7 separate regions of the Homo sapiens genome follow, and all the other regions are linked to region 4. The links come from fine-mapping of genetic effects on gene expression. A gene starts in region 4. Each other region holds a variant in brackets. All regions are shown on one strand. Distances are from middle to middle. Region 1 overlaps SCRIB (scribble planar cell polarity protein). Region 2 has its middle 20 kb from the start of MIR661. Region 3 has its middle 12 kb from the start of ZNF707. Region 4 holds the start of EPPK1 (epiplakin 1). Region 5 has its middle 12 kb from the start of NRBP2. Region 6 has its middle 25 kb from the start of EPPK1. Region 7 holds the start of PUF60 (poly(U) binding splicing factor 60).

Region 1 (4,000 bases), 69 kb after region 4:
GGTGGTGGGGACTGAAGGCTGAGGGCAGTGGGCAGAGCTTGGGGAGCAGAGGGCACGAAGTGGGGTGGAGACAGCTTCTGTGGTCAGGTCCTTGTCCCGGTCTCCAGGGGCTGTGAGGGACCCTGGCTGGAGCTGGCCTGGGGTGTCTGTGCCCTCCTGCCAGGGGCTGTCATCTCCTTCCCACCCCCAGCAAGCCCCTAGCGTCCTCTGACCTCCTCTTCTTGGCCAGGCCCTGCCCCGCTCCCTGGGAAAGCTGACTAAGCTGACCAACCTCAACGTGGACCGGAACCACCTCGAGGCGCTGCCGCCCGAGATCGGGGGCTGTGTGGCACTCAGCGTCCTCTCCTTGAGGGACAACCGCCTGGCCGTCCTGCCACCAGAGCTGGCCCACACGACAGAGCTGCACGTGCTGGACGTGGCGGGGAACCGGTGAGTGCCAGCCTTGCCCTGCGGGCCTAACCGTGGCCCCAACGCCTGCTGACTGTGCCCGCCCGGCCCGCAGCCTGCAGAGTCTGCCGTTCGCGCTCACCCACCTCAATCTCAAGGCCCTGTGGCTGGCAGAGAACCAGGCGCAGCCCATGCTCCGGTTCCAGACGGAGGATGATGCCCGGACCGGCGAGAAGGTGCTCACCTGCTACTTGCTGCCCCAGCAGCCCCCACCCAGCCTCGGTAGGTTGTTGGCAACCGGTGCTTAGCGCGGGGTGGCTCTCAGGCAGGGTTTGGGGACTAGCCTGGGTCCTGACGCTCACCTGCTGCAGAGGATGCTGGGCAGCAGGGGAGCCTCTCGGAGACCTGGAGCGATGCCCCGCCGAGCCGCGTCAGCGTCATCCAGTTCCTGGAGGCCCCCATAGGTGATGAGGACGCTGAGGAAGCTGCAGCTGAGAAGCGGGTATGAGGGTGAGGATCTGGGGGGCGAACCTCTGCCTGACCCCTGCCCTGTGGCTGCTGCTCATCCTTGTCCCTACAACAGGGCCTACAGCGCCGGGCCACACCTCACCCCAGCGAGCTCAAGGTGATGAAGAGGAGCATCGAGGGGCGGCGGAGCGAGGCCTGCCCTTGCCAGCCAGACTCTGGGTCGCCCTTGCCTGCAGAGGAGGTGGGCATGGAGCCACGGCAACCTGGCGGGCCGCTGACCCGGGAGCTGTGGTGGTCCGGTCCATCCTGGGAGTGGGGCTGTGAGGGCCAGGGCAGCACAGAGAAGGAGCAGGAGATGAGGCTGGTGACAGGTTTCAGGGACATGGAGCTGCAGGGCCAGCTGGGTGAAGGGTGCCAGGGTGGACGTGTGGGTCGTGCAGGGCGGGTCTGTGGGGCTGGAGTATGGGGAGAACCAGTGGTGGGTGTGCCTGGGAGCACAGGGAATGGGGTTTGGTTGTGGGGTAGGGTCTCTGGTGGAACTGCCGTGGGTGTCATCGGCACCTGGGAAGGGGTTTGGGACTGGGACAGAGCAGGCCTGACTGTTCTCACTCAGAGCTGTGACATGCGTGCTGTGGGTTTTTGGGTGCAGCAGAACCAGTGATCTGGGCTGGGGTAGGGTGTGTGGGGCCGTGCATGGGAGGGGAGGAGGTTCATATCACGCTGGGATTTTCCTGGGAACTTGTGTGGTCCTTGTTTGTTTTAGGAAAGGCTTTCCTTGGGGCTGGGCTGTGGAACCGTGGCTTTGTCCACCCTAGGCTTTGGAGGCGTGTGGCTTCCTTGCAGGCTGGGACAGGGAGCAGCTGCGAGGGCGTGAGCCCGTTAACGGTGCCTGGTCGGGGCAGCGGGAAGCTCAGGGAAGGCCTGCCACGTGGGGGGCATCCCAGGTGGCCAGCCTGTGAGTCGGGAGCTCCGTCGAAGCCTGACCCCACTTCCCGCCGCAGGAGAAGCGGCTGAGTGCCGAGTCTGGCCTGAGTGAAGACTCTCGCCCATCTGCCAGCACAGTCTCTGAGGCTGAGCCCGAGGGCCCGTCGGCTGAGGCACAGGGTGGGAGCCAGCAGGAA[G/A]CCACGACTGCTGGCGGGGAGGAAGACGCCGAAGAGGACTACCAGGAGGTGTGGATTGGCAGGAAGGAGGCAGGAGGCTGGGCCTGCTGGGTGGGGGCTGCCTCCCCTGCGGGGCCTCAGCTGGGATCGGTTTTGGTGCAGGCAGTGCCTGGGCCCTGCTGATGCTTCGGGGAGCTGCCCTGTACAGAGTGGCTACGGGTGGTGCAGGGCCGTGCTGCTGGGGGTGCCCTGGAGAGCTGCCTCCCTAGGTGGGGTTAAGGTCTCCCCTGACGGCTGGGCTCACAGAGCCCACCCCCACCCTGGACTCTCTTCTGACCCCCGTGGGCTCCCTGGTGTGAGGCCTTGGCGCACCCCTTCGTTTCCACCTGGGGCGCTGCGTGTCTCCAGGATGAGCCCCTGGCCTTCAGCTTTTCTCAGGGCTGAGACACGCGCCCCTCACTGGGCAGTTAGTGCTGAGTCTTTGTGTGGCGGGGAGGCTTTCGGAGCCCGTCTGTGGCCACACTGTTTAGTAGGGTCTTCCTGTGGAAGCACAGCCACAGAGCTGGGGCCACCCTCACCCTTTTGTCCGCACAGCCCACGGTGCATTTCGCAGAGGACGCACTGCTGCCCGGGGATGACAGGGAGATCGAGGAGGGGCAGCCTGAGGCCCCCTGGACCCTGCCAGGCGGGAGGCAGCGGCTCATCCGCAAGGACACACCTCACTACAAAAAGCACTTCAAGATCTCCAAGCTGCCCCAGCCCGAGGCCGTTGTGGCTCTGCTGCAGGGCATGCAGCCTGATGGGGAGGGCCCTGTGGCTCCCGGGGGCTGGCACAATGGCCCCCACGCACCCTGGGCTCCTCGGGCCCAGAAGGAGGAGGAGGAGGAGGAAGAGGGTAGTCCTCAGGAGGAGGAGGAAGAGGAGGAGGAGGAAAACAGGGCTGAAGAGGAAGAGGCCAGCACTGAGGAGGAGGACAAGGAGGGGGCCGTGGTTTCTGCGCCCTCTGTCAAGGTTGGTGTCAGCCTCACCCCTGCCTGACCCAGATTCCCCTGGCCCTCCTGGGCACCCAGGGCTGCGGCAGGAGCAGGGCCGAGGCCTGACCCACTGGCCCCTGGCCACCCGGAGAAGGTGGTGGACACGTGTGCTCCACAGTCGGCATCACGGCCACTCTCACCAGACCCCAGGCCTGCCCTGGCATTGGTCTCAGTCCATGCTTGGACTCCAGGCCTGCCCTGGCGTTGGTCTCAGTCCATGCTTGGACCCCAGGCCTGCCCTGGCGTTGGTCTCAGTCCATGCTTGGACCCCAGGCCTGCCCTGGCGTTGGTCTCAGTGCCAGAGGCAGCTCTGCTGGCCAGTATTTGCCCGACCTGCTGGCGGGCACGGAGTTCACAGAAGTCAAGCATGGCTGCCCACTCTTTGTGGGTCTCCAGGGCCTGTCTACATGTGTCGTGGTCCCAGGGCAGGGTCTGTTCCTCTCCCAAGATCACTGGGCTCTCCTGGGATCCTCTCTTGTGTTGGGCACTGCAGGCCCGAGGCCCTGATGGCTCTTTTCTGCCTTGTCGGGCCCTCCTGAGGTGCCACACAGGCCTTCGGGGCACCAGTGTGTCCCTCCCTGGCCCTCAAGTCTCCTCTCCATGGGTCACAAAGGGTCTCACCTGCTCTCTGGGCAAACTCAGATTCCAGGGGGAGTCCCCGGGTCTCACTATCCCTGCCCTTGATGACACTCTGACCCTGAGTGTGGGCCAGTGGCATGATAGCTGAGGGGGCCCGGAGGGGCCACAGCAGGGACAGCCCGGTGGGACTCTGCTCAGCTCTGGAGCCCCGCTTGTCCCCAGGTGTGTGGTGTCACTCACGCCTCCAGGATGGAGGCGCCCGTGCCAGGGCAGTCGAGGGAGCTTGCTGTGGTCTCCTCTGTCCTTTCTGCTTGTGGCGGGGGCTGGGTGAGGCGGTGGTGGTGGTCTTGGCGGTGGCTAACCTGCATGCCTCACTGGTCCTGTCCTAACAGGGAGTGTCGTTTGACCAGGCCAATAACCTGCTGATAGAGC
Region 2 (4,074 bases), 87 kb before region 4:
AAGTACTGGGATTACAGGTGTGAGCTGCTGCCATGCCTGGCTACTACACCTTTTTACATCAGGGACTTGAGCATCTGTGGATTCTGGTATCCATGGGGAGTCCAGAACCCATCTCCCGCTGATACCGAGGGACACTTGTATTCGGCGTAAACTTCGAAGTTGCCTGTGGGCAGCACCAGCTCACGGAACAGAACTTTTCAGCTCCTGGAAAGTTCCTGCTGAGTCCCCACTGGGCACACCATGGATGGGTCTCACACCACGCATCTATTTTTGTTTAATTCTGTCTGTTTCTTTTTTTTTTTTTTTTTTTTTTTTTTTGAGATGGAGTCTCGCTCTGTTGCCCAGGCTGGAATGCAGTGGCGCGATCTCGGCTCACTGCAACCTCCGCCTCCCGGGTTCAAGCCATTCTCCTGCCTCAGGCTCCCGAGTAGCTGGGACTACAGGCGCCCGCCACCATGCCCAGCTAATTTTTTGTATTTTTAGTAGAGACGGGGTTTCACCGTGTTAGCCAGGACAGTCTCGATCTCCTGACCTCGTGATCTGCCCACCTCGGCCTCCCAAAGTGCTGGGATTACAGGCGTGAGCCACCGCGCCTGGCCTAATTCTGTCTGTGGTTTCTTTAGCCATATCAATTTTTAACACTCACCAGTCTTTTATGATTTCTGGATTTTATGCTATGCTTAAAATGGCCTTCTTTTAGAAAAACATCTGCTGAGAGTTGCTTCCAGCACTGCTGCATTTTTTTAAACATCTCTGTCGTTAATCTTTGTGGAATTTGCTTGGGGCTGAGGTCGAGATGTTCAAGGAGGCTCGATGTCATGCTTGGTGTCACGCTCATAGGGTCTGGCCGTGGGCTTGTGGGTTACAGGGATGATTGTAAACATCTCCCCTTCCACCAATCCGGCTTCCTGACGCAGGGGCTGTGTATTGCTTCACTTCTGTGCCCCCGAGCCGAGCCCTGCCCTGTCCTGTGGCAGAATCCAGCTTCCTGACGCGGGGACTATGTGTTGCTTCACTTTTGTACCCCCCCAGCCGAGCCCCGCCCTGTCCTGTGGCAGGTGTGGCTTGAAACAAGCGTTGGGTGGGAGGGATAGGTGGACTTGGAGCTGGCTGGACCCCTGCAAGATCCTGGCCTGGTGCCTCCCAAGGAGCGGCTGAGGAGTCCCCCGTGGTGGCTGTGGAGGTAGAGAGCAGCCTGGGGTGGAGAGGATGTGCCTGCGGCAGAGAGGGCGGAAGAGCCAGCGCTTAGCCTTGGGTGCATAAAATCAGAGATGCCTGTGAGATAGGTATGCGTGTGCAGACACTGAGGTGCAGGAAATGCTGGGCTGAGGTGGGGAGGCCAGGCTGGGAGGCCATCACTAGGGCAGGCCTCGGGCCAGAGCTCTGAGCCTGGGGTCCTCCAGAGCTTAGGTGCCTATGAGAAGAGGCAGCCGGGAAGCAGAGCAGTGGGCAGCTGTGCAGCCATGGGGGCCTGTTGGGTCTGCGAAGGAGGAAGGGGCGTGAGGAAGCAGGGCCACGTTGGGAGCAGGGTGAGGCCTGGATGGTGCTGGGACCAGGTGATGAGGGGTGTTGGGACCTCAGCGGGACTGCTTGGGGTGTCGTCGGATTGGAGGTGCCAGGGGGCATGTGGGAAGTGCTCAGGAGGCCCTGCTGGTGCCAGGCTATGGTGGGTCCAGCAGGGTGGCAGGGAGGGAGAACCCTCTCCAGGACAGAGCGGTGACATGGAGGCTAGGCCGCAGCAGGTCACAGCCTCAGCTGGATGCTGGCC[C/T]GAGTTCCCTGGGGAAGGAGTTCCCTGGGCCTTGGCCTGAGGGACCTGCATGGTCACAGGGGGCATGGGCATCACCTGGCCCAGGGTGAGTACTGAGTGGTCGCTCACATTTACCCAGCCACACATCATCAGTGGCCAGTCCAGACTGCTGCTCACCACTGAGGGCCCTGGAGATTTTCCCAGGGTTGGGCTGTTGGGAGGGTGTGGGCAGTGGTGCCCTGTGGCCTCAGTTTCCCCAGTGAGGCCCAAGAGGAGCTGGCAGCAGAGGGGCCAGGGGCCAGGTACCTCAAGAAGGGACTGGAGGAGGCTGGGAAGGGCGATGCTAGTGGGACCAGGTGCCCAGATCTCCCACCGCTGGGGTCATGGGTGATGCCCACAGACCCACAGTGGGTAGGGAGATGCGGGGCTGGGAGAGCAGGGGCCGTGGGTCATGAGGTCAGGGACCCAAAATGGGGCATGGGCCGGGTCATCTGTAGGCCCAGTGGAAGGGGAGTTGGGAACACGCGTTCAGACGGTGGAAGGAGGGTGCCAGCTGGGAAGACAGGATCCTGTAGGACTTGGGACATCAGCCTGTGGGGCCTGCTCTCCAGGATTTGGGTCCTGGTTAGCTGCAGAAGAGTCCTCCCAGCTGGTGGTCAGCTCTTGGCAGGACTGTTGCTGCTTCTTCCTGGAGGCAGAGGAGACCCAGGACCAGGAATGGGATGGGGATCACTTTGTGTCCCTGTGTGGCTCCAGGAGTAGCGGCAGACCCAGGGCCAGTGCTGCAGGAAAGGAAGGCCCCAGGACGGCATCAGGGTGGCTGGTGTGAGTCTGGGTGCTCTTGGGCAGGCTGGTGTGTCAGGTGGGCTGGGGCCAAGTGGGACGGTGAGGGTGGGGAAGGCCATCCACAGGGGCACACCAGGGTGGGCGGGGGGGTGGGGGTTGGTTGGGGGAGTGGGGCTGGTCAGGGCTGGAAGTGTGGGTCTGCAGGAGCAGAAGGAGGTAGCTGCAGTAAAGGTCTCTGGTTGTGGCTTTTATGATTTTTATTCTGCTCTGTTTTTCAAATGAATGTGTCTTTTGACCTTTTGAAAGTGCATCTCTTTCTCTTCTTTCTTGCTAAACGAGTGGCTACCTGGGAAGCTAACAGAGCAGGCACAGGATAGGCCTAAGAGACACAGCTGGACGCCACTGTCATGACTGCCACAAGAATGCATGGTTGTTTACAGAATACAGATACCCCCAGAGAATGTGCCCTGTTTTAGGTTCCTGTGGCTGCTGTCACACGTACCCACAAACTGGGTGGCCTTAAACAACAGAAATGTATTCTCTTACGGTTCTGGAGGCCACATGTCCAAAATCAAGATGTTGACAGGGCCACGCTCCTTCGGAGGCTCCAGGGCGGACTCTGTTCCTGGCCTCTCCAGCTCCTGGTGGCCATCGGTGCCTGGGCTCGTGGCCGCATCACTCCAGTGTCGGCCTCCATCCTCCCGTGGCCCTCTCCCCTGTGGCTTCTCTTCCATCTCTTGTAAGACACTTGGCATTGGTTCTAGGCCCCCTACTGGGTAATCTAGGATGATCTCATCTCAAGATCCTTGTGTTAATTACACCTGCAAAGACCCTTTTTCCAAATAAGATACCAATTATGGGTTCCAGGGAATTGTTCATAGACATATCTTTTGGGGACCTCCATTCAACCCACTACAGTCTGTCCTCTGGTCCCTCAAAACTTACATCTGCCCCACTTCCAAAATAAATGTTTCTTATGCCAACATGCCCCAAAGTCTCAACCTATTGTAGCATCAGCTCTAAGTCTAAAATTCCATCCGCTTAGCCAGGCACAGTGGCTCACGCCTGTAATCCCAGCACTTTGGGAGGCCTGTGGGTGGATCACCTGAGATCAGGAGACCAGCCTGGCCAACATGGTGAAGCCTTGTCTCTACTAAAAATACAAAAATCAGCCAGTCATGGTAGTACACACCAATAATCCCAGCTACTCAGGTGTATGAGGCACGAGACTTGCTTGAACCCGAGAGGCAGAGGTTTCAGTGGGCCGAGACTGCACCAATGCACTCCAGCCTGGGTGACAGAGCAAGACTCCATCTCAAAAAAAAAAAAAAAAAAAAATTAGCCAGGTGTGGTGGCACATGGCTGTAGTCCCAGCTGCTCAGGAGGTGGAGGTAGGAGGATTGCTTAACCCTGGAGGCTGAACCCAGGTGACAGAATGAGACCCCATCTTGAAAAAAACAAGAACAACATTTAATCAGCTCAGAAGTCCCAAATCTGATCATCGAAGTTGTGTCTAAATCAGGTGTTGGTGAGGCTCTGGG
Region 3 (4,074 bases), 210 kb after region 4:
AAAGAAAAAGGCTAACAAACCCAGTTTCTTAGAAAGAAACACTTAACAGGGACTTAGAAAAAGAAGCCATGTCTGTCTTGGCAGCGGCAAGAGGAGATACTGGATCCCACCATTGCCCCCGCCCAGGGCTTGTGTACCACGGGGAGGGTTGGGAGGGAAGTGCAGGACAATGGGCGGCATCAGGGCCGTCTGACCCTGCGGCAGGGTTTATAGCAAGTGCCTGCCCTTACACAAGGAACAACAGATCACCTGGAAACGTCGGAGGCCTTCCCTGGACGGGTTAGTCGAAAGCCCACACAATAGTCACCATCCAGGCTGGAGCGGCTTTGGCCTCCACAAGGAGTTCCTTCGATATTTTGGATATGAGTCCCTCATCGGACACGTGATTTGCAGATATTCTCCCGTTCTGTGGGGAAGGGGCAGCTTTTCACTCTTTTAGGAGTGTCCTTTGATGAACAAAAGGCTTTAATTTTCACGAAGCCATTTGGCTGTTTGTTGTTGTTGCCTGTACCTTTGGTGTCCAAGGAATCATTGCCAAACCCAGTGTGTGTCAAAAGCTTCTGCTCCCAGTTTCTAACAAGAGTTTACTGTTTCAGGTCTTGCATCCAGATCTTTGATCCATTTTTACTTTTTATTTTACTTTATTTACTTATTTTTTTGAGACAGTCTTGCTCTGTTGCCCAGGCTGGAGTGCAGTGGCGTGATCTCGGCTCACTGCAACCTCTGCCTCCCGGGTTTAAGGGATTCTCCCACCTCGGTCTCCCAAGTAGCTGGGATTTCAGGTGTGCACCACCACACCTGGCTAATTTTTTTTTGTATTTTTAGTAGAGACAGGGTTTCACCATGTTGGCCAGGCTGGTCTCGAACTCCCGACCTCAGGTGATCCACTCTCCTCAGCCTCCCAAAGTGCTGGGATTACAGGTACAAGCGGTGCAAGCCACGGTGCCCAGCATGATCCATTTCTAGTTAATTTTTGTATGTGGTACTGACGAGGGTCCAACTTCATTCTCTTGCATGTATCACACTTTCCCAGCAACAGCCACTGTAACCTCTACCTCGTGGGCTGAAGCCATCCTCCCGCCTGAGCCCACCACGTAGCTGGGCCTGCAGGAGTGCATCACCACACCTGGCTAACTTTTCAAAATTTTTTGTAGAGACAGGTCTCAATATGGTGCCCAGGCTGATCTGAAATTCCTGACCTCAAGCAATCCTCCAACCTTGGCCTCCCCAAGTGCTGGGATTACAGGCATGAGCCATGGTGCACCCTGGCCCCACCAGGAGATTGTATATCCATGGGTACTGGTGACACTGGGCCTCAATAGAACAATTCCATATATACTGTATATGATTCCATTCACAGGACATTCTTGAAAAGATGGAATTACAGAAATGGGCCAGGCACTGTGGCTCATGCCTGTAATCCCAGCACTTTGGGAGGCTAAGCGAGGTAGGCGGATCACCTGAGGTCAGGAGTTCCAGACCAGCCTGGCCAACATGGTGAAACCTCGTCTCTACTAAGAATACAAAAATTAGCCAGGCATGGTGCATGCCTGTAATCCCAGCTACTTGGGAGGCTTGGGAAAATCTCTTGAACCTGAAAGGTGGAGGTTGCAGTGAGCTAAGATCGCGCCACTGCACTCCAGCCTGGGCAACAGAACAAGACTGTCAAAAAAAAAGAAAGAAAAGAAAAAGAAAGAAAGAGAGAAAGAGAGAGGGGAGGGAAGGAAGGAAGGAAGGGAGGAAGGAAGGAGAAAAAAAGAAAAGAAAAGGAAAGGACAAGAAAAGAAAAAAGAATTACAGAAATGGACAGAACAGATGAATGGTTGCCAGCCCTGAAGGAGGGTTGGAGGGAGGGAGTGGGTGTGGCTGTG[G/C]AAGGGTGAGGACCATATCCTGACTCTGTGAACATCAATACCCCAGCTGTGTGCACTGCAGGGTTCCAGGTGCTACCACTGAGGGAGGTAAAGGGTGCCCAGCATCTCTCTGTAAAACACCTTACAGCTGCATGCAAATCTAAAATTATCACAAAAAGCTTAATTAAAAATAAATAAACGTGTTCCTGCCTAGCTGCCTGGTCTAATTAAATTAGGGTGGGTGCATGTGGGACCTGGCTGCCGCAAGTGACGCCAGTCCATAACCGGGGCTGACACCATTGCCTCTGGGGTCCCCACCAGGTCCCCCGCCCTGCGCAAGGCACAGGTTACCTTTACTGCTAAGGTTCTAACTATGTGAACCCCTTCTAAAGGGCGAGCCAGGGAGAGAGGCCCCAGAGGGCCGGCACTCTCCCGAAACCAGCTAGGAGAGGATGCGGACACCACACAGAAGGCCCATCGCACCCCTTTGGTAAACCGTAAGTCTCATAATCCCAGCAGTTCAGGAGGCCGAGGTGGGTGGATCACCTGAGGTCAGGAGTTCAAGACCACCCTGGCCAACATGGTGAAATCCTGTCTCTACTAAAAATACAAAAATTCGTCGGGCATGGTGGCGTGCACCTGTAATCACAGCTACTCAGGAGGCTGAGGCAGGAGAATCGCTTCAACCCAGGAGGCAGAGGTTGCAGTGAGCCGAGATCTCACCACTGCACTCCAGCCTGAGTGACAAGAGTGAAACTCTGTCTCAAAAAAAAAAAAACCCTTAACTAATGGGTACAAAAAAATTAGAAAGAATAAGACCTAGTATTTGATAGCACAACAGGGTGACTATATTCAATAATAATTTAATTGTACATTTTAAAGTAACAGAGTATAATCGGATTGTTTGTAACGCAAAGGATAAATGCTTGAGGGGATGGATACCCCACTATCCATGATGTGACTATTACACTTTGCACGCCTGTATCAAAACGTATACCCCATGGGAGGCTGAGGCAGGTGGATCACTTGAGGCCCGGAGTTCGAGACCAGCCTGGCCAACATGATGAAACCCCGTCTGTACTAAAAATGCAAAAATTAGCCAAGTGTGGCGGTGCTCGTCTGTAGTCCCAGCTACTCGGGGGCTGAGGCAGGAGAATCACTTGAACCTGAGAGGCGGAGCTTGCAGTGGACTGAAATCACGCCACTGCACTCCGGCCTGGGTGACAGAGTGAGACTCTGTCTCAAAAAAAAAAAAAAAAGAAACAAAAACATGTACCCCATAAATACGTACGCCTACTATGTGCCCACAAAAATTCAAAACAACGCAAAACAAAACCTCTTAACACCAAATCCTAAAACTCTTAGTCTTCATATTTGATTTCTTTTTTTGAGGCAAGGGCTTGCTCTGTTGCCCAGGCTGGGGTGCAGCAGCCCGACACAGCTCACTGCAGCCTAGACTTCCTGTTGTCCAGGCTGGTATCAAACTCCTAGACTCAAGCAATCATCCCACCTCAGCCTTCTGAAGTGCTGGGATTATAGATGTGAACCACTCCAACCCCATATTTGATTTTTGTACAGCAACAGTTCCCAGATATAAAAACAGGCTAACCATGATGGCTCACAGCTTTAATACTAGTGCTTTAGGAGACTGAGGCAGGAGGATCATTTGAAGCCAGGAGTTAGTTTGACACTTGCCTGGTCAACATAGTGAGACTTCATTTCTACAAGAAATTTTTTTAAAATTAGCCAGGTGTGGCCAGGCGCAGTGGCTCACTCCTGTAATCCCAGCGCTTTGGGAGGCTGAGGCAGGTGGATCACCTGAGGACAGGAGTTCAAGACCAGCCTGGCCAATATGGTGAAACCCTGTCTCTACTAAAAATAAAAAATTAGCTGGGCGTGGTGGCAGGCGCCTGTAGTCCCAGCTACTCGGGAAACTGAGACAGGAGAATCTCTTGAACACGGGAGGCAGAGGTTGCAGTAAGCAAAGATTGTACCACTGCATTCCAGCCTGGGAGGTTGCAGTCAGCTGAGATCACACCACTGCACTCCAGCCTTGGCAACAGAGTGAGACTCCATCTAAAAAAAAAAAAACACAAACAAACGAAAAAAAGAAAAACAATTAGCCAGGTATAGCATTCCTGTAGTCCTAGCTCTTCAGGAGTGATATGGTTTGGGTCTGTGTCCCCACCCAAATCCCATGTCAACTGTCATCCTCAATGCTGGA
Region 4 (4,074 bases):
GAGAGGTCAGCCTGCTGCTCAGCTCTGTCCCACCCGCTCCCGCCGGGCCCTCCATCCTGCCTGCATCTGCCCTGTCTCCTCTCTGGGCCATGTGCCGTGGAGGGGACACCCTGCTCCCAGATGCTTTATGGAGCAATGGCGGGCACTCCCCTTCGAGCTGGGCCATGCCAGGCTCCAAGGGACCAATGGGGATCCTGGCCAAAGGCTCCAACCAGCACGGTGACTCCATGGAGCAGCCCAGGGGCAGCGTGGGCACTGGTCTTGGGGCTCTGGGACCTCCCTCCTTGGACCAGGTCTTCTGAGAGCCTCCCTGACCTGCAGGGGGAAGCTAGGTGCCAGTGCCAGGAGGAGGTGGGTAGAGCCGTGGGCAGTACTGGGCATGGGAGCCCTCTCGCTCACCTCCTGACACCCTCCCTGATGCCCTTCCTTGCTGTGTAGGTGGTATAGGCCCAGGCCTGGGGGCTGGAGGAGTGGCCTGTGGCTCCGGGGACTGCTGGGCTGAAGCACTGGACTGGAGCCCCTGGGGAGGTGGTGGCTCCCAGAAGCCCTGACTGGGAGTGGCCCAGGGACCTGGGGAGTAGGGCAGGCACCCAAGTCTGCCCCCAGAGGTGTCCCCAGAGGTCACTGGGCTGGGGGCCACCACAGGGCAGGGGATCTGGAGTCACAGGAAGACAAAGCCGAGGGAGAGGAGCCAGGGGACAGATGCCAGTGGGTGCAGCAGAGCAGGGCCAGCTCCATGCCACCTGCCTATACCAGGGGGGTGACGGGCAGAAATGGGTGCAGCGGAGCAGGGCCAGCTCCGTGCCACCTGCCTATACTGGAGGGGTGACGGGCAGAAATGGGTGCAGCGGAGCAGGGCCAGCTCTGTGCCACCTGCCTATACCGGAGGGGTGAGGAGCAGACAGGCATGTGGCCCGTCCCTGGGCACACAAGAAGGCTTGGTCTGGCCAGCCTAACACCCCCTTCTTGCAGCGAGGGGCTGGCATACACCCAGGTTTTGTGGCCTGGCAGGGGCGCTGCCTGCAATGGCTCACCGCAGGAAGAAGTGGCTCTGGGGTGTGCTCCAGGCCACAGGCCATAGCCAGCACCACCATGCCTCCCAGCAAGACCACACAGACAGTGTCCAGGCATCCGGTGAGCAGGGCTGGGGATGGATGCGGTTGGCCTGGCAGTGCCTTGGGGAAATGCGGGTTCCACCAGAGCTCCTCTGGGGTCAGGGCCCCGCAGTCGGCAGCAGCCATGCTGTGCGGCCAGTGTGGCAGGTGTGGACAGGGTCCAGGCAGCCTGGGTGAGCAGGTGTGAGTGTGGACCTGGTGGGTGGGTGAGAGCAGAGCCAGGGCAGTGGTCCCAAGCACCCTAACCCCTGAAGGCCTAACCTGTCCCTCCTGCACCTGCGTGGGCGCCTGCAATTACCCTCATGGTGTGCATTGGAGGTGGCTGGCTGGCTCTGGATGATTTTCTGGTCAAGAATGACTCAGGCAGAGGTGGGGGCTGGAGCTTGGGAGAAGGGGGCACTTGTGGGGGTGGGGAGCACCTGAGCCCTCAGGACCTCCAGGACTACGGGACAGAGGAGGAGGGGCCTTGGGGACAGAGGAGGAGGGGCTTTGGGCCCTGTACTTCCGTGGCCCTGCCCACCTGGGATATCGGGGCAGCCAAGGGGAGGGCCCTCCAGAAGATCCATGGAAGGTTCCCGTGCCAGGCTGAGGCTGCCCCCAGGCCAGCCCCCGAGGCTGTGAGCCTCCATGCCCAGTGTCTCTGGCATGCCCCAGCCTTGGAAGGTGGGTGCCAGGATGGGCTTCAGAGAGGGGACCAGGTACTCCCAGGGTGACAGGGAACATTCTCTGTGCCCAGGTGGAGGAGCCAGACCGGGGGGTGAGGCCTGGCACTGCTCCAGGCAGGACATCCCAGCTCTTACAACGTCATGGGGGCAGGGGGGCCTGCCAAGGAGAGCCTTGAAGACCCCTGGACCCAGCAGACACACGACGTGAAGCAGCGTCCCCAGGAAGCTGAGCAGACAAGGTGGGGTCGGGGCTGGAGGCAGGGACACCAGCCCGCACCGCATTAGTGGCTTGTGGGGATAGAAACCGCCGCTCTGGCCGGTCCGCGTTTCACTCCAAACTCCTTTCCCAAAAAAAAAAAGCTGTTCTGAAGGGCACAGGACGCCTCCGCGCCCGCCCTGCGTTCCTTCGCGGTGACTCCCTGCTGGGGACGAGGGGAGGGTCCCGGCTGCCCAGCCGCCGCCCCTTGCCCGGGGTGCAAGCGCCAGGCCCGGGCCGCGCGGGGTTTCCGGCACCTGCCCGCCCCGCCCCGCCCCGCGTCGGGGCCCCGACCTGGGCGCCGCCCTAGACGGGGGCGGGGCCTGTGGGGCTTGAAATGCGGGCGGAGCGGGCGCGCGGAGACACTGCGGACCGAGCGGCGAGCGGGCAGGTGCGGCGGGTGCGGCGGGTGCGGCGGGTGCGGCGGGTGCGGGCAGGTGCGGCGGGTGCGGGCAGGTGCGGCGGGTGCGGGTGCGGGCTCGGGGCCGGGCGGGGCGGCGGCCGCCGAAGGAAACCGGATCCCCGCTGGAGCCGCACGCCGAGGCCAGGGTAGGGGCGCGGCGGCCAGCGGGGTCTTGGGCTCTGGCCGGGCAGGTTTCCCGCCCTGGGCAATTTGAGCTCCGAGTCCGAAGTGGCGCCCCTGAGTCCCGGGCGCCGGTGAAGAGGAGGCGCCGGCCCCGAGCCCTCACGGGAGAGGCGGCCAGGGGCGGGGGTCTCGCAGGCCCAGCGGTTTTCCCTGCAGCGAGGACCGCCCGGGGCACGCTCTGCAGGGTGGGGAACGCCCAGGCCAGGAGGCAGCTAGGCCGACAAATTGAGAGGGGTGACTCCTGGCAACATTGCCGGGAGGGAGGCGTCACGGATCCGGGGAAGCTGCCTGCTGTTGGGTGAGCGGTCCCAGGGGTGGCCACTCCGGGTCAGGTAAGCGGTCACACGGTCGCCTGGAGACCCGTGGGAGGCAGAGGCAGGAAGGGCCCTGTTCATCACTTGGGCCCAGGGCTCTGCTTCCCTGCCCTGGGCCCCCGCTGCACTGTGCCAAGCTTGTTATTGGGGCCACTGATCTCTGATCATGGTGCAGGTTGCAGGTGGGTGGGGTCTTCCCACAAGGGCACACAGCCGGGCAGAAGCTAAGGCTGCTGCCTCCTGTGTGGGCCCAGGCAGCTGCCAGGGTCTGTCCTGACCTGACTCAGGCAGGCGGCTGCAGCCTCCCCAACCTTTGTCCCAGGCTGCGGTGGGGGCCTGCCGGGCAGTCTGGTGACAGACAGTGACCTCACCCAAGAGATGCAGACCCACCCTCCTCAGGAACGGCCCTCCACCACTTGGGGCCTGGGGGCCACCTGAAGTGGGGAATCCACAGGAGGGGCCCTTTGTGCCTCAGGCTCCGGGGAAATCTGCTCGGCCTCCTCCCCACCCCATCACCCTAACCCTGACCCCGTGCTCTCCTAGGCAGCAGCCACCTCCTCCAGATGCCCCCACACTCGAAGCTGCACCCCCTGCCCCCCCTCGCTCCGGACCCTCTGTCCAGCTGCCCTCCCAGGCCCCACATGGAGTCAAGACACCCACTCCCGGGCCTTCCTCCTGCCAAGCCTGGGAAGGGGCAGGGCCCAGGGAAGGGGCAGGGCCCAGAGGGGTTCATACCAGGCCCAAGGTCAGGAAGAGATAGGGAGTGGTGCAGCCAGCCACAGGCCGCATCTCACGCATGGTGCGGGGCATGCACTGGCAGGCACACTCACACACGCAGGGCAAGCCTGCCCCCGACTCCCTGCTCCCAAGCGCCCTGTCTCCAGCCTTCCTCCCTGGATCTCCTCTTTGTTTGGGGAACTTGAGCCACTTGCCTGAGCTTACGAGGCCCGCTTAGCACGCGGCCTGTCTGGGCTGGCGGCCTGTGCGCAGGTCAGGGGCCCGCCCAAGGTGCTGTCCCCACCCTCACTGGCCCTGCCCCGCCCTCGCTGGCCCTGCCCCACCCTGGCCCGCACTGCCCCTCCCCCTTGCTGGGAAATCAGGTGCTCCTCTCATTTCCTCACCGCCATCCCTGGCCGGA
Region 5 (4,074 bases), 26 kb after region 4:
TGGGAGAATCACTCGAACCCAAGAAGTGGAGGTTGCAGTGAGCCAAGATCACACCATTGCACTCCAGCCTGAGCAACAGAGTGAGTGTCCACCTTGGCTCGTGGGTGGGAACTCATGAGCGCCCACTCCAAGCTGTGTCCTCTCAAAAAAAGTAAATAAAGTCTGCTGGTGAGGAATTTTACACATATAAATACATAAAATATTTGATTTGAGTTTATCCCATCTGGAGTTGGCCAAACTTTTTGATTTTCATAAGTTTATATCTTTCACTAAATTAGAGAACTTTTCTGCCATTATTTCTTCAAAATAAATGTTTTATGTACTAATATCTTTCCATTCCCCTTCTGGAACTTCAAATACAAAAGTGATAGATGTTTTGATATTGTTTCACAGCTCTCTGAAGCTTTGTTCATTTTTTTAAAAAATCTTTTCTCCTGTTTTTCAGATTAGATAATTTCTATTGATCTCTTTGTAAGTTTACTGACTCCTTCCTCTGTAATCCCCCTTTTGCTATTGAGACACTCAGTAAGCCTTTTTTTTTTTTTTACTTTGAGACAGAGTCTCACTCTGTTGCCCAGGTTGGAGTGCAGTGGGGCGTGATCTCAGCTCACTGCGGAGTCCGCCTCCTGGGTTCAAGTGATTCTCATGCCTCAGCCTCCTGAATAGCTGGGACTACAGCTGTGTGCCACCATGCCTGGCTAATTTTTGTACTTTTAGTAGAGACAGGGTTTCTCCATGTTGCCCAGGCTGGTCTCAAACGCCTAGACTCAAGCGATCTGCCCGCCTCGGCCTGCCAAAGTGCTGGGGTTACAGGCATGAGCCACTGTGCCTGGCCAGCTTTTTTACTTCAGGTGATTTTTTACTTCAGGTAATATGTTTTTCACTTCTACCATTTCCACCTGCTGAGAACGTCTGTCTTTTCACTCATTCTTGGGGTGTCCACTCTTGCCGCGGGGAGCATCGGGCTGGAATTGCTGCTGTGAAATCTTTTCCTGGTCCCTCCAGCATCTGAGTCCTGGGGTTCTGCCAGCAACTGTCTGTCTTTTCCCCTGAGACCGGATCCAATTTCCAGTCCTTGGCATGTTGGGTAATTTGGGGTTGTATCCTGGATGTTTTAAATAATCAGATGCGAGGCTCTGAGCCCTGCGAGAACGCGCTTGAGAATGTTGGCATTTTCACTTTGGCGGGCACTCATCCCGGCTGGGTCAGGCCACAAGCCGTATCCCAGCCGCTGTGTGCAGTGGATCCGTGTTGGCTCAATTCTCAAGGCTGTTGCTGTGCGGCCTGTTCCCCACACGTGCTGCTCAGCTCAGGCAAGCACCGAGCTTGTGTTGTTTCATGCTCAGCGTGGAGGCCCCTCCTCCAGGTCGCTGCTCTGTGGGGTTCCCATACACTCAGGCTCCTAGGAGGAGTCCATTTAGAAAGCCAGGGTTTTTCTCAGAGTCTTAGTTCCTTGTGCTGTCATCCATTTCACACGACTTGGGCCCTGCTCGGGGCAACACAGCAAGAGAAAAGACAGGGAAAATAAGAGAGGGACCTTGCACACACACGCTCTGGACCACAGAGCCCTGTGCCCAGCTCCTCTGTCAATACAGGTGGAATCTCGTGCAGGATCGCAGGGGTCTGTGATGCCACCAAAGAGCAGGCCGGGACAGGGTTAGGAGAGAAAGGAGAGGGAAGTGGGGGTTTCTCCTACGCACTCTTATTTGCAGAGGGAAAGGCGGGTTTGTATTGGGGTTGTCGGTCTTTGCACCCACGGCACAGTTGTGAGACACCCCCATCCTCAGATCAAAGCCGCACATACAGCTGGGGAAAAACAAAACAAAACAAAACAAAAACAGTAAACCTCCATGCCA[G/C]TTGTTGGTAAGTTTTGAGTTTCCTCCCCAGCCAGCTGCTACTGTTAGCGTTTCACAGTCCTCCAGGAGTCGCTTTTTATATTCTGTCCAAAGGGAGAGAGGAGCTGTAGTGGCTGTGCTCCATCTCTGCCAGCCCAGAAGTTTCCAGAAGTGCTCTTCTGATTTTACAGGTGAAGAACCGGAGTCCTGGGGGTGTAACAAGCCCAGGTCCTCAAGGCAAGGGTGGGAACTCACGAGCGCCCAACTCCAAGCTGTGTCCTCGCCCCGCAAGCTTGTGCTGGTCACTGCTGCCCTGTGCCCCCCGGATAGAAACACTGCTGGAGGAGAAGCCTTTCTCAGAGCCCTGGGGAAGGGGATGGTCAGGCCACCTACACTCCTGGCCCTGCTCCACTGGCTGCACTGGAGTGGCATCTGGATGGACAGCAGCCGGCTGGAGACTGGGAGGAGGCCTGGGTGCAGGAGGCTGGGGCGCTGGGCAGCATGCGCCGCGGGGCAGCAGGACGCAGGGGCCTCCCAGCGGGACTCGCACGTGGCACTCTCTGGGGCAGGTGGTGACGGGAGGCAGACACACTCCAGGGGAGTCCCTCAGTCACCATGCTCCAGGTACTTGCGCCTCACGTTTAGAACCAGGGTAGATTTGGAGACTCCTGGGATCTTTTGACAAAATTTCTCTCCAATCTCTAAGTACAAAGGATGCTCCTACAAAGGGCCAGATGGCAAGTCCTGGGATGGAACCCCTGCCCTTGGTGCCACCACTGCTCTTTCATAACTGTGGGCTCTTCCGAAAGTGACTTCATGGCTCAGTGCCTCAGTTTCCCTTTTTGTAAAATGGTCATCATGGCTGGGCGCGGTGGCTCAGGCCTGTAATCCCAGCACTTTGGGGGGCCGAGGCGGGTGGATCATGAGGTCAGGAGTTCGAGACCAACCTGACCAACATGGTGAATCCCTGTCTCTACTAAAAATACAAAAATTAGCTGAGTGTGGTAGGTGCCTGTAATCCCAGCTACTCAGGAGGCTGAGGCAGGAGAATCACTTGAACCCGGTAGGCGGAGCTTGCAGTGAGCTGAGATCCCGCCACTGCACTCCAGACTGGGCGACAGAGTCTCTGTCTCAAAAAAAAGAAAAAAGAAAAAAAAAGGTCATCATAATAACACTTAACTCACTCAGCAGTTGTGAGTACAAATAAAATTCAAATCCTGGAAGTGTTTGAAAAACATCCACAAGAATGACAGAAAGGAGAAGCACACTGTTGTTTTTGTTAGTTTTAACATTCGTGTGGCTTTTTTCTTCCTATCCGAAAAAGAGATTTTCTCCCCGATCAGCCCAAGTCATCCTTCTAGTGGCAAGAAAATTAGGAATGTTATGGAAAGAATCCCAAAAGAAAAAACGAGTGAATATTCAGATTCACATTTTTCTTTTTTCTTTTTTTTTGTTTTTTTCTTTTTTGAGATGGGGTCTCGCTCTGTCACGCAGGTTGGAGTGCAGTGGTACAACAGCTCACTACAGCCTCGAACTCCTGGGCTCAAGCGATCCTTCCACCTTAGCCTCCCAAGTAGCTGGGACTACAGGTGTGTGCCACCATGCCCAGCTGATTTTTTTTTAAGGACTAGAAAGTCAAAGACAAATGCCCAGCAGATTTTGTAGAGCTGGGGTTTCGCCATGTTGCCTAGGCTGGTCTTGAACTCCTGAGCTCAAGCAATCCACCTGCCTCAGCCTCCCAAAGTGCTGGAATTACAGACATGAGCCGGCACGTCTGGCCTATATTCTGATTTATATTCAAAGTAGACTTTGCAGCAAGACAATAGGCTTGGAAGACAGGTTAGTGACGCAGTTCATGATGGGGTTCACAAAGGGGCTGGTGCTGAGGTTCGAGATGGCATTTGTGATAGGATTGGTGATGGGTTCATGATGGGGTTCGTGATGGGGGTGGTGATGGGTTACCCTGGGGACAGTGAGAAGGAAAGGCAGAGACAGAGGAGCTCAGATGCCTGGCTTGTCTTCCCTTGACTCCCTCCAGTGCTGGTGGGGGTTGTTTCAAAAACATCTGGACAGGCCAGGCATGGTGGCTCACATCTGCAATCGCAGCACTTTGGGAGGCCGAGGCGGGTAGATCACTTGAGCTCAGGAGTTTGAGACCAGCCTGACTGACATCCAACATGGTGAAACCCTGTCTCTACTAAAAAAAAAAAAAAAAAAAAATTAGCCAGGCATAGTGGCA
Region 6 (4,074 bases), 24 kb before region 4:
CCTCCTACCTCGGACTCACAAAGTGCTGGGAATACAGGGATGAACCAGGGCATCCAGCCTGCCCACTTTTACTTACATGCAAATTAAGGGGCGGTTTATGCAGAAATTTCCAGGATGAGGGTGGCAACTTCTGGCTTGTCTGGTTGTTGCCATGGAAAGGGGCAGTAACTTCTGGGTGTTACCACGGAATGGTAAAATGACATGGCACACTGGTGGGCGTGTCTTACAGGGAGGTGCTTCCACCTCCCTGTAAGACACTTGTTTTAGCTAATCCTCACTTTGGTCCAGTGTCCAAACCCCACCTCCGGAGTTGAGTCCTGCCTCCTACCTCAGGAGGAAGGCTGCCCCAACTGCTGGGCCCTGGGAGAGGCCGTTCTTCAGTGCTGGGAATGCATTGAGCAGGGCTGCACGCCACAGACAGGAGTGGAGCCCTCCCACCCCAACACACACACAAGGCCACCCAGCAGTCTTGTGTCCTGGGCAGAGGGCTGATATGGGGAGGGGCAGCCCCCAGGCAGGAGACAGTGGAATTGTGATGGGGATTGCACTGAATTTGCAGGTCAGCTTGGGGAGTGATGCTGAGATGACTTTCCGTTCAATCATGTCCTCTTCATTTCCTTCAGTAATGTTTTCTAGTCTTAAATATACAAGTCTTGACTTTCTTTGGCTACGTTTATTCCTGAGTATTTTATTATTTGCAGTGCTATTGTGTGTGGAGCTGTTTGCTTAGTCTCATGTTTGGATTGCCTACTGCTAGCATGAAATACAACTGATGTTTGTATATTGTGGAGACAGCCCACCGAGCATCGCACCTGTCCTCCAGGGCCTCTCAGGACAGCCCAGCACGGTGGCTGGGCCTCGGGGGCAGACCAGCTTGCCCTCCCTACTGGATCATATGCAGGCAGGACCCGGGTCTCTGGGTCCCAAGCTCTCGCCCCCGGCCTGTTTGCCCACCAGGTCCCAGGGACAACGCTGTCAACAGGCTCCTCCTCCCTGGGCCTGGCATGGAAGGGCTTCTTGGTTCTGAGGCCTCAGCTGGTTCCAGCCGACCAACCCACAGCTCCCTGGCAGCCGCCACCCTGAACTGGAGTCTCGCCATAACCCTGGGCTGCGGGCCCTGCTGGGTGAGGAAGAGAATGCTTAGGTAGCTGCAGCTGCTGACCCGGAGGAGGAACCTCTCTCCTGGAGGCATTCATCCCACACTCTAAGGAAAGGGAATGGACCACTTGAGCCCAGGAGTTCGAGGCAAGGCAGGACGCCCTGAAGGGATGGGGCAGCTGTGATCTGTGGGAAGTGGCTTCCTGCTCTACCCGTCTCGGAACAGGAGGCTTTGCCGTCCTAGAAACGCGTTCGGAAGATGGGACACCTTCAGCTTACTCAACTCACCCGCTTAAATCCCTGAGTTAAAAAAAAAAATTAACTGATCGTCCTTAGGAGATCCCGGCAACAAGCTTACATTTTTAAAATTGATAAATAAAAGAAAAGAATCAAGCTCTTATTCTGTCTTTCCTATGCAGATGGGCCGCTGGGTAACCAAACAGCATGAGAGGGAGGTTTGTCATCGCGGAAGTATTCCAGCCAGTGAACAAAGAAGGCATAGCTGAGGGGATATCCACCTTCCGTGCCAGACAGCGCATGTCAGCCTCCCAGGGGATGCAAGCCTCAGCCCCGCAGACCTGCTGGAAACCTGGTCAGTTCCACCATGTCACATCCTGACACATTTCAGAGCCTTTTGGGGGCAGAGTCTTATCCCCCACCCTGGAGCCCTGTGCGTGTTTGCTGAGGGACTGCTGGCTTCAGCCCCCCGAGGAAGCCACACCCCTGGGGACCACAGCAAAGGGACCAAAAGCTAAGTGGGGCTAGAGCTGGGAAACGCTGGGGCCCTTCCTTCCCACTCTAGGGGGCAGCTGCCTGAGTCCCCGGCCTCCCCTTCCCTCCCCCTGCTCAGGAGTGGGGCTTCTCTTGGGCCTGGTCTGAGGATGCTAGACTGTGGGGTGGTGGAGACATGGGCCTGCCCTTGGCTTCAGGGCCTGGACTCCTGGCTGGGTCCCACTCTACCCACACTCCCTCCAGGTCTGCCAGGAAGATGAGGCACCACCTGCCGTCTCTGAGGACAGAGGCTGGATGGAGCCCATTCACGAAGACCAGGCTGAGCAGCGTACGCTGGGC[C/T]GCACCCCATTCAGTCCTCTTCTGTCTTATGTTGTGATAGGTTCAGAGGCCAGGCCAGCACGAGCAGAGTGGCTTTGCAGCCCCCTGGGTGGTTGCAGGTGGGTGGTTGCAGGTGGGTGGTTGCAGGAGGCCACCCCTCAGGGGCGCTGCCAGGACATGGGCGGCCTTCACGTGGACAGTGGTTTTGTGCTTTCCACCAGCACAAGGTCCACGGCGGCGGCTGCTGCGGGCTCCCCAGCAGATGGCAGCAAAGCGCCTACCAGCCCCAGCGTCTCGTCCCGGCCACCTGTCTCACTCCTGCTTTCTGACTAAAGTGGGGACAGCAGGCTGTGTCCCATCTGGGAGGCGCCACCTCACCCCCTGGAGGGGAAACCAGCCCAGTAGGCAGGGGCGGGGGATGGGGGGTGCTAGCGTCATCTCAACAACCCATGCCCCGACACAAGATGCTGGCCCCCAAACTCCTCCTCCCCAGAGATTTCTCATCCCCAGGACGGCGGTTGCAGGCAGAAGGGTTTGGAAACATTAAACGTGAATTATTCCAATTGGTAAAAAACAAAACAAAACGAAACAACTAGATCCTGGTTACTTTATAATATATAATACTCAAAGGATTATAAATTTCTTCTTTTTTGTTGTTGTTGTTGAGACAGTTCTCGCTCTGTCACCAGGCTGGAGTGCAGGGGCACGATCTCGGCTCACTGCAACCTCCACCTCCCGGGTTCATGCCATTCTCCTGCCTCAGCCTCCCGAGTAGTTGGGACTACACACGCCTGCCACCACGCCCGGCTAATTTTGTTTTTGTATTTTTAGTAGAGACGGGGTTTCACCATGTTGGCCAGGATGGTCTCGATCTCCTGACCTCGTGATCCACCCGCTTCGGCCTCCCAAAGTGTTGGGATTACGGGCGTGAGCCACCGCGCCCTGCCAGGATTATAAATTTCATTTTTATTTCAGCCTCTCTGGGCATGGGAAGGATCAGCTGAGGAGTGAGGATGGCGGCGATTACCCACAGCCTTAGCGTGACCTGCTCATTTGCAGCACCAACCAATGAAAGTCAACAGAAAATGTGAAAAATGGCAGTCCATGCCATGAATACACGTCATTTGAAAAAAGCGTCCGCGGGTGCCACTGGCACTCACACACACGCCCTCCACTTAATGTCTCCACTTAATACCAAGAACCTTCAGTTGAGAATCTATTTTATTTTATTATTATTATTATTTTGAGATGGAACCTCACTTCATTGCCCAGGCTGGAGTGCAGTGGTGCGATCTCAGCTCACTGCAACCTCTGCCTCCTGGGTTCAAGCCATTCTCCTGCCTCAGCCTCCCCAGTAGCTGGGATTACAAGTGACCACCACCACATCCGGCTAATTTTTGTATTTTAGTAGAGATGGGATTTCACCATATTGGCCAGGCTGGTCTCAAACTCCTGACCTCAAGTGATCCACCCGCCTCAGCCTCCCAAAGTGCTCGGATTACAGGCATGAGCCACCATGCCCGGCCAATAATCTATTTTAAATGAGAAAAATGGCCAGGTGTGGTAGCTCACGCCTTAATCCAAGCACTTTGGGAGGTCAAGGTGGGAGTATCACTTGAGCCCAGGAGTTCGAGACTAGCCAGGGCAACATAGTGAGACCCCCATCTCTACAGAAAATACAAAAATTAGCCAGGCATGGTGGCACACTGCTATGGTCCCAGCTATTTGGGAGGCTGAGACGGGAGGATTGCTTGAGCTCTGGAGGTCGAGGCTCCCAGACTCATGGCAGTGAGTTGTGATCATACCACTGTATTCCAGCCTGGGCAACAGATGGAGACCCTGTCTCAAAAAACACAAAATTTTTTTTTTTTTTTTTTTGAGACGGAGTCTCGCTCACTCAGTGAGCTCACGATCTCCGCTCACTGC
Region 7 (4,063 bases), 50 kb after region 4:
GAAGCCTGATGGCATGCGGGTGGTCAGACCCAGCCCAGGGGTGGAGGCAGGGGTAGGACCCAGAGTCTCACTTACTCCCAGGCTTTCAGACAGGGCCTTGCTTGAGCAGGGCCTCAGAGCTCCTCTCCTGGAGCTCACGTCTCAGACACTGCAGTGCCTGCCAGCCCCGGTGGGTAGGGACAGAGGTCTGGGGTTTCCTTTCTGTAGCTGTGCTTTCACCCACGACCCTCAGACACTGGCCTCCATAGCCAAGTGGGCTGGAGTAGCTCTCGCTGTCCACCTTTCTTAAGCTCTGCAATATCCCAGCTCTTTGCCCTTGCAGGGTTTGTCTTTATAAAACCCCTTTCCTATAATTTTGGAAGGTTTCAGGAGGGAGGCGGGGAATATTCTGCCCTATTTAAGTAGAAGTGTCTGTATTAAATTCTAAATGTTCCCAGGGTTGAAAGGAGGCCTGCCCGGGATGCCTTGTGGCCTTAGGCAGCTGAAGGTGCCTGAGCTTACAGATGTGGCTTCTTCGGATGACCGAGTTGGGGTCTCGGGACTGGGTGCAGCAGATGGCAAATGTCCAGGACAGGCAGCTTTCCCAGCAGTACTGACAGACACCTTGGGCCATGAAAGCCAGTTCAGGGACTAACGGGGCCTGCGGGCTGCGGGTCTAGCGACTGATGTCAGCCAACCTAGGGTCATCGGTTCCCTGGAAGGAGAAAAAGCTGCCAATTGAACGGGGCCTCCCGGTCCCAGGGATGTCGCGACGCGGGGACGACGCATCTCACGACGTCAGCCTGAAACACGCGGGCCTTTCATCACCCGAGACTCCTCCAGCCCAGGAGGGCCCCGCTCTTTCGCCTGCCTCCTGGGGGAGAGCCTCTGGACGACGCACGCGACAGCGTTTTCTCCAAAAAAGGCAGAGAAGAGAAGCGTAGCAGTGGCCGCAAGGGCGACGGGCGGCGAAGGGTACTACGCACGCCCGCGTCGGCCACGCGGAGAGATACGCCCGACTCGAGTCCCGCGGCGCACGCCCCTAGACGCCCGAGGTGCGCGGGCCACGCCCCTCGCCCGGCCAAGAGCACGCCCCTTCCGTCGCCCCTCCCGGGGGCGTTTACCGTTCCTCCCCGCCCCGGAAGCGCGTTCTTACCTCCTTCCTCGCGAGAGTTCCGTGCACCGGCACCCAGATCGCGCGAGACAGCGGAAGGAGCAAGAGTGGGAGGCGCGCGCGGAGGCCGCGACGGACGCAAGATGGCGACGGCGACCATAGCTCTCGTAAGTGAGCCCCCCCATGAGCGCGGGCGGCCCTCGGCTTGCGGGGCCGGGTCGTCGACCCAGCCTGGGCGCGGAGGGCCTCCCAAGAACGCGGCGGTCTTCCCAGGTCCCGCGCGGACTCCCTCGTGTCCCCGGGTCGCGTGAGGCGGGGGCGGGGCGGGCGCGCGCCGGCGGCCGGCTCGCGGCCTCAGCTTCCGGCCTGCGGACCCCAGCTTCCGGCGGGGCGGGGCGGGGGCCTGGGCGCGGCGTGTGGCCCTTGCGGGCGAGCCTGGCGGGGTTGCGTTCCTGTCCGCTAGGTCCGGCAAGCGGGGGTCGTCGTCCTCCCTTTGCCGACGGGGGTGTGCGCCGTGGTCACGACGGAAGCGGGGTTCTGGGGGTGACGCGTGGGCCTTCGGGTTGATGGGATCAGAAGGGGACGGGACCTGTAGAAAGGGGCCTGCAGCTCAGAGCATGGGGCGGCCTTGGCTCACTACGCCTGCAGCTGTGAATTCGTTCTCCGGTGCTGGAGAGGGATCTGGTTATCTCCATTCTCTTGTCTCCACGTGGAAAGGAAGGACGTGCGCTCTCATCCTACGTGTTTTGAGAAATCGCATTGTCCCCAGCTCTGCGGGAGGATCTGGGGACGCAGTGGGGAACCAGACAGGCAGTTGGAGGTCTAGTGCGCACCAGAAGCCAGTTCCCACCCAGGGTGCCATTTGCTGGGCGCCCTAGGGAGCTGCGTGGGCATCCAGAGGAGTGAGTCGCCCCCTGCTCTGCTCAGTGCCCACTTCCCCGGGCAGGGCAGGCGTTATTAACGTAGAGGGAGAACACCCATGCACACAACACATGCACGATGAAGTCTGGTCTTTCCTTCTCACCACTTAGCTTATAGGACCTAATCCCCTTTTGGACCTTTCTCAGCCGCAGTTTACCCCTGTATTA[C/T]TTGTCACCCTTCCCCCAGCCCACACCCAGCGGGATGGGATAAGGTCTGTTTGAGAAGACAGCTTGGGCAAATGGCTGAAGGCTGGACTGGCAGGACCAGGGAGTGTCCTTAGACTGCCATTGCCAGGCCCCCAGCGGGCGGGCTGGTCCCATGTCCCACTGAGGCAGAAACCAGTTACTAGGGGGAGAGAGGCATTTACACAAGATACCCAGCTTGCGAGGGCAGCCCAGTGTGTGATTCACAGGACTGGCTAACTCCACTCTTTCTACTATGTCCTTTCTCTTGAAGCCACAGGAGTAAGTGACCTTTGAGGGGCACTCCAGAGAGAAAGGATGTAAGGGTTGAGGACCTGGTGACTGTCTTCAGGCAGCAGTCAGAGAGTTGATGGTGAAGGAGGAGGAGGCTCAGAGACAAGGACTGGACATGGGAAGGTGGAGGAGGAGAGTGGATGCCTGACTCCCCTAGCACCCGCAGAACAGCGCCCTGTGCTCATGAGGGTTAAATGGGGGCTCAGGTCTGCTGTGGCGTGGTGCCAGATAGGTGGTGTCATTGTTGAGTTGGACGTGGGCCATAACTGACCCCACGAACGGGTTGTCTGTTGGGGTGTTTGTTGCCATCCAAATTCTGTTGGGTTTAATACGTGTTTTTTTATCGTCAGGTTTCAGGCTTGCATCCGGCTCCAGGAGTGAGCTGTAGCCTGTGGTCTAACCCATTCCTCTTTTAATCATTGGGATGGAAAGGCTTCTAGAAGGGTTATCTGTTCCCACCGTCCTGGTTGGGCACAGTGATGAGAGCCTGTCCCCTGTCTCATGCTGCTTCAGCTCTCATGGGAGGTTGAATGGAGCAGCTGAACTTGGCTGACAGTGGCCTGGTGGGGAAGGAAGCCAGAAGATGCAGAAGGGCCTCCCCTCCCATGGGCATGCCTTCTGCCTGGTGGCTGCAGAATGAGGCCGGCTGCCTCTTTGCAGCAAGGGTAGGTCTTCTGGATGCATCTTTTCACTTTGACGCATGGCTCCGTTCTCTTCACTGACAGCCAGACCAGCTCTCATTTGGGGTCATCACCCTTGGGGTTCCAGTTCCTTTCTTCTGTAGGCCCCAGCCTGCAATGTCACCTCATAGAGAGGCCCCCGGCTGCCATGGCCTGGCATAGCTCATAGCCACTCCTTTCTTATCCTGTGCTTTCTTCGTAGTGCTGGTAAACCACAGAAGTCATCTTTGATTTTGGCATTCTTTGCTGGCAGCTGACACCAGGCTCCTGAGAGAGACGTCTTTCTCTCTTGTCTCGTGTCTGCGGCCTCTGCAGCGCTCACTGTGGAGCCTGGGCACGCAGTAAGCAGTGTTCATTGTGTGAAGGGAACTGACAGATAGAAGGCAGTGTCCTGCAGCCAGCTCTGCCCTGGGTATCTGACACTGGATGTTGTTAATACTGATGAGTGCTGGAACCTGTGGCTTGCTTTGCTGCTTTCCATGTGCAGGGACTGCAGGTTGTGGGGTTGGGGGCGTGTTGGGATTTCACTGAATCTTCACAGTAGCCCTAGGAGACAGGCCGTCCCCATTCCCAGCTGAGGAGCCTGAAGCCTTGAGACCTTGGGACCTTCAGTCATTCGCTCCACATTATTTTTTTTTTCTTTTTGTGTGTGAGACGGAGTTTTGCTTTATCGCCCAGGCTAGAGTGCAGTGGGGTGATCCCGGCTCACTGCAACCTCTGCCTCCTGGGTTCAGGCAATTCATGGTAGCACCTCAGCCTCCCAAGTAGCTGGGATTACAGGTGCTTGCCACCATGCCCGGCTAATTTTTGTATTTTTAGTAGAGATGGGGTTTCACCATGTTGGCCAGGCTGGTCTCCAACTCCTGACCTCAAGCAATCCACCTGCCTCGGCC

Evidence for each region. PIP is the estimated chance that this variant, and not a neighbour inherited with it, causes the effect.
Region 1: its variant is fine-mapped to the expression of EPPK1 in whole blood (INTERVAL, PIP above 0.99).
Region 2: its variant is fine-mapped to the expression of EPPK1 in whole blood (TOPMed, PIP 0.96).
Region 3: its variant is fine-mapped to the expression of EPPK1 in whole blood (INTERVAL, PIP above 0.99). The same link has a PIP of 0.9 or more in iPS cells.
Region 5: its variant is fine-mapped to the expression of EPPK1 in whole blood (TOPMed, PIP above 0.99).
Region 6: its variant is fine-mapped to the expression of EPPK1 in whole blood (TOPMed, PIP above 0.99).
Region 7: its variant is fine-mapped to the expression of EPPK1 in whole blood (INTERVAL, PIP above 0.99).

What each region holds. Positions count from the first base shown.
Region 1 is chr8:143,807,575-143,811,574 of GRCh38, reverse strand. SCRIB (scribble planar cell polarity protein) reads left to right here. Exons shown (of 37, transcript NM_182706.5): 10 at 230-429; 11 at 503-669; 12 at 759-889; 13 at 971-1,096; 14 at 1,857-2,024; 15 at 2,550-2,966; 16 at 3,961-4,000. Among named protein-coding and RNA genes, the nearest start is that of MIR937, 3.5 kb to the left of the region's middle. The variant G/A (reference allele first, on the strand shown) is at 1,977.
Region 2 is chr8:143,963,607-143,967,680 of GRCh38, reverse strand. It overlaps a transcript of PLEC not described here. Among named protein-coding and RNA genes, the nearest start is that of MIR661, 20 kb to the right of the region's middle. RefSeq lists enhancers at 554-1,330, 1,331-2,108, 2,109-2,886. The variant C/T (reference allele first, on the strand shown) is at 1,769.
Region 3 is chr8:143,670,211-143,674,284 of GRCh38, reverse strand. No RefSeq gene overlaps it. Among named protein-coding and RNA genes, the nearest start is that of ZNF707, 12 kb to the left of the region's middle. The variant G/C (reference allele first, on the strand shown) is at 1,872.
Region 4 is chr8:143,876,791-143,880,864 of GRCh38, reverse strand. It overlaps EPPK1 (epiplakin 1), which reads left to right and starts at 2,398. Exons shown (of 2, transcript NM_031308.4): 1 at 2,398-2,427. RefSeq lists an enhancer at 1,046-1,688 and a silencer at 2,255-2,344.
Region 5 is chr8:143,850,737-143,854,810 of GRCh38, reverse strand. No RefSeq gene overlaps it. Among named protein-coding and RNA genes, the nearest start is that of NRBP2, 12 kb to the right of the region's middle. The variant G/C (reference allele first, on the strand shown) is at 1,857.
Region 6 is chr8:143,901,022-143,905,095 of GRCh38, reverse strand. No RefSeq gene overlaps it. Among named protein-coding and RNA genes, the nearest start is that of EPPK1, 25 kb to the right of the region's middle. RefSeq lists an enhancer at 1,688-2,258 and silencers at 2,515-2,564, 2,301-2,595. The variant C/T (reference allele first, on the strand shown) is at 2,170.
Region 7 is chr8:143,826,477-143,830,539 of GRCh38, reverse strand. PUF60 (poly(U) binding splicing factor 60) reads left to right here and starts at 1,225. Exons shown (of 12, transcript NM_078480.3): 1 at 1,225-1,260. The coding sequence starts at 1,237. LOC107986985 (a long non-coding RNA gene) reads right to left here and starts at 1,260. Exons shown (of 3, transcript XR_001746138.2): 1 at 1,136-1,260; 2 at 502-694. It also overlaps a transcript of NRBP2 not described here. RefSeq lists enhancers at 1-1,133, 454-1,153 and a silencer at 938-1,507. The variant C/T (reference allele first, on the strand shown) is at 2,182.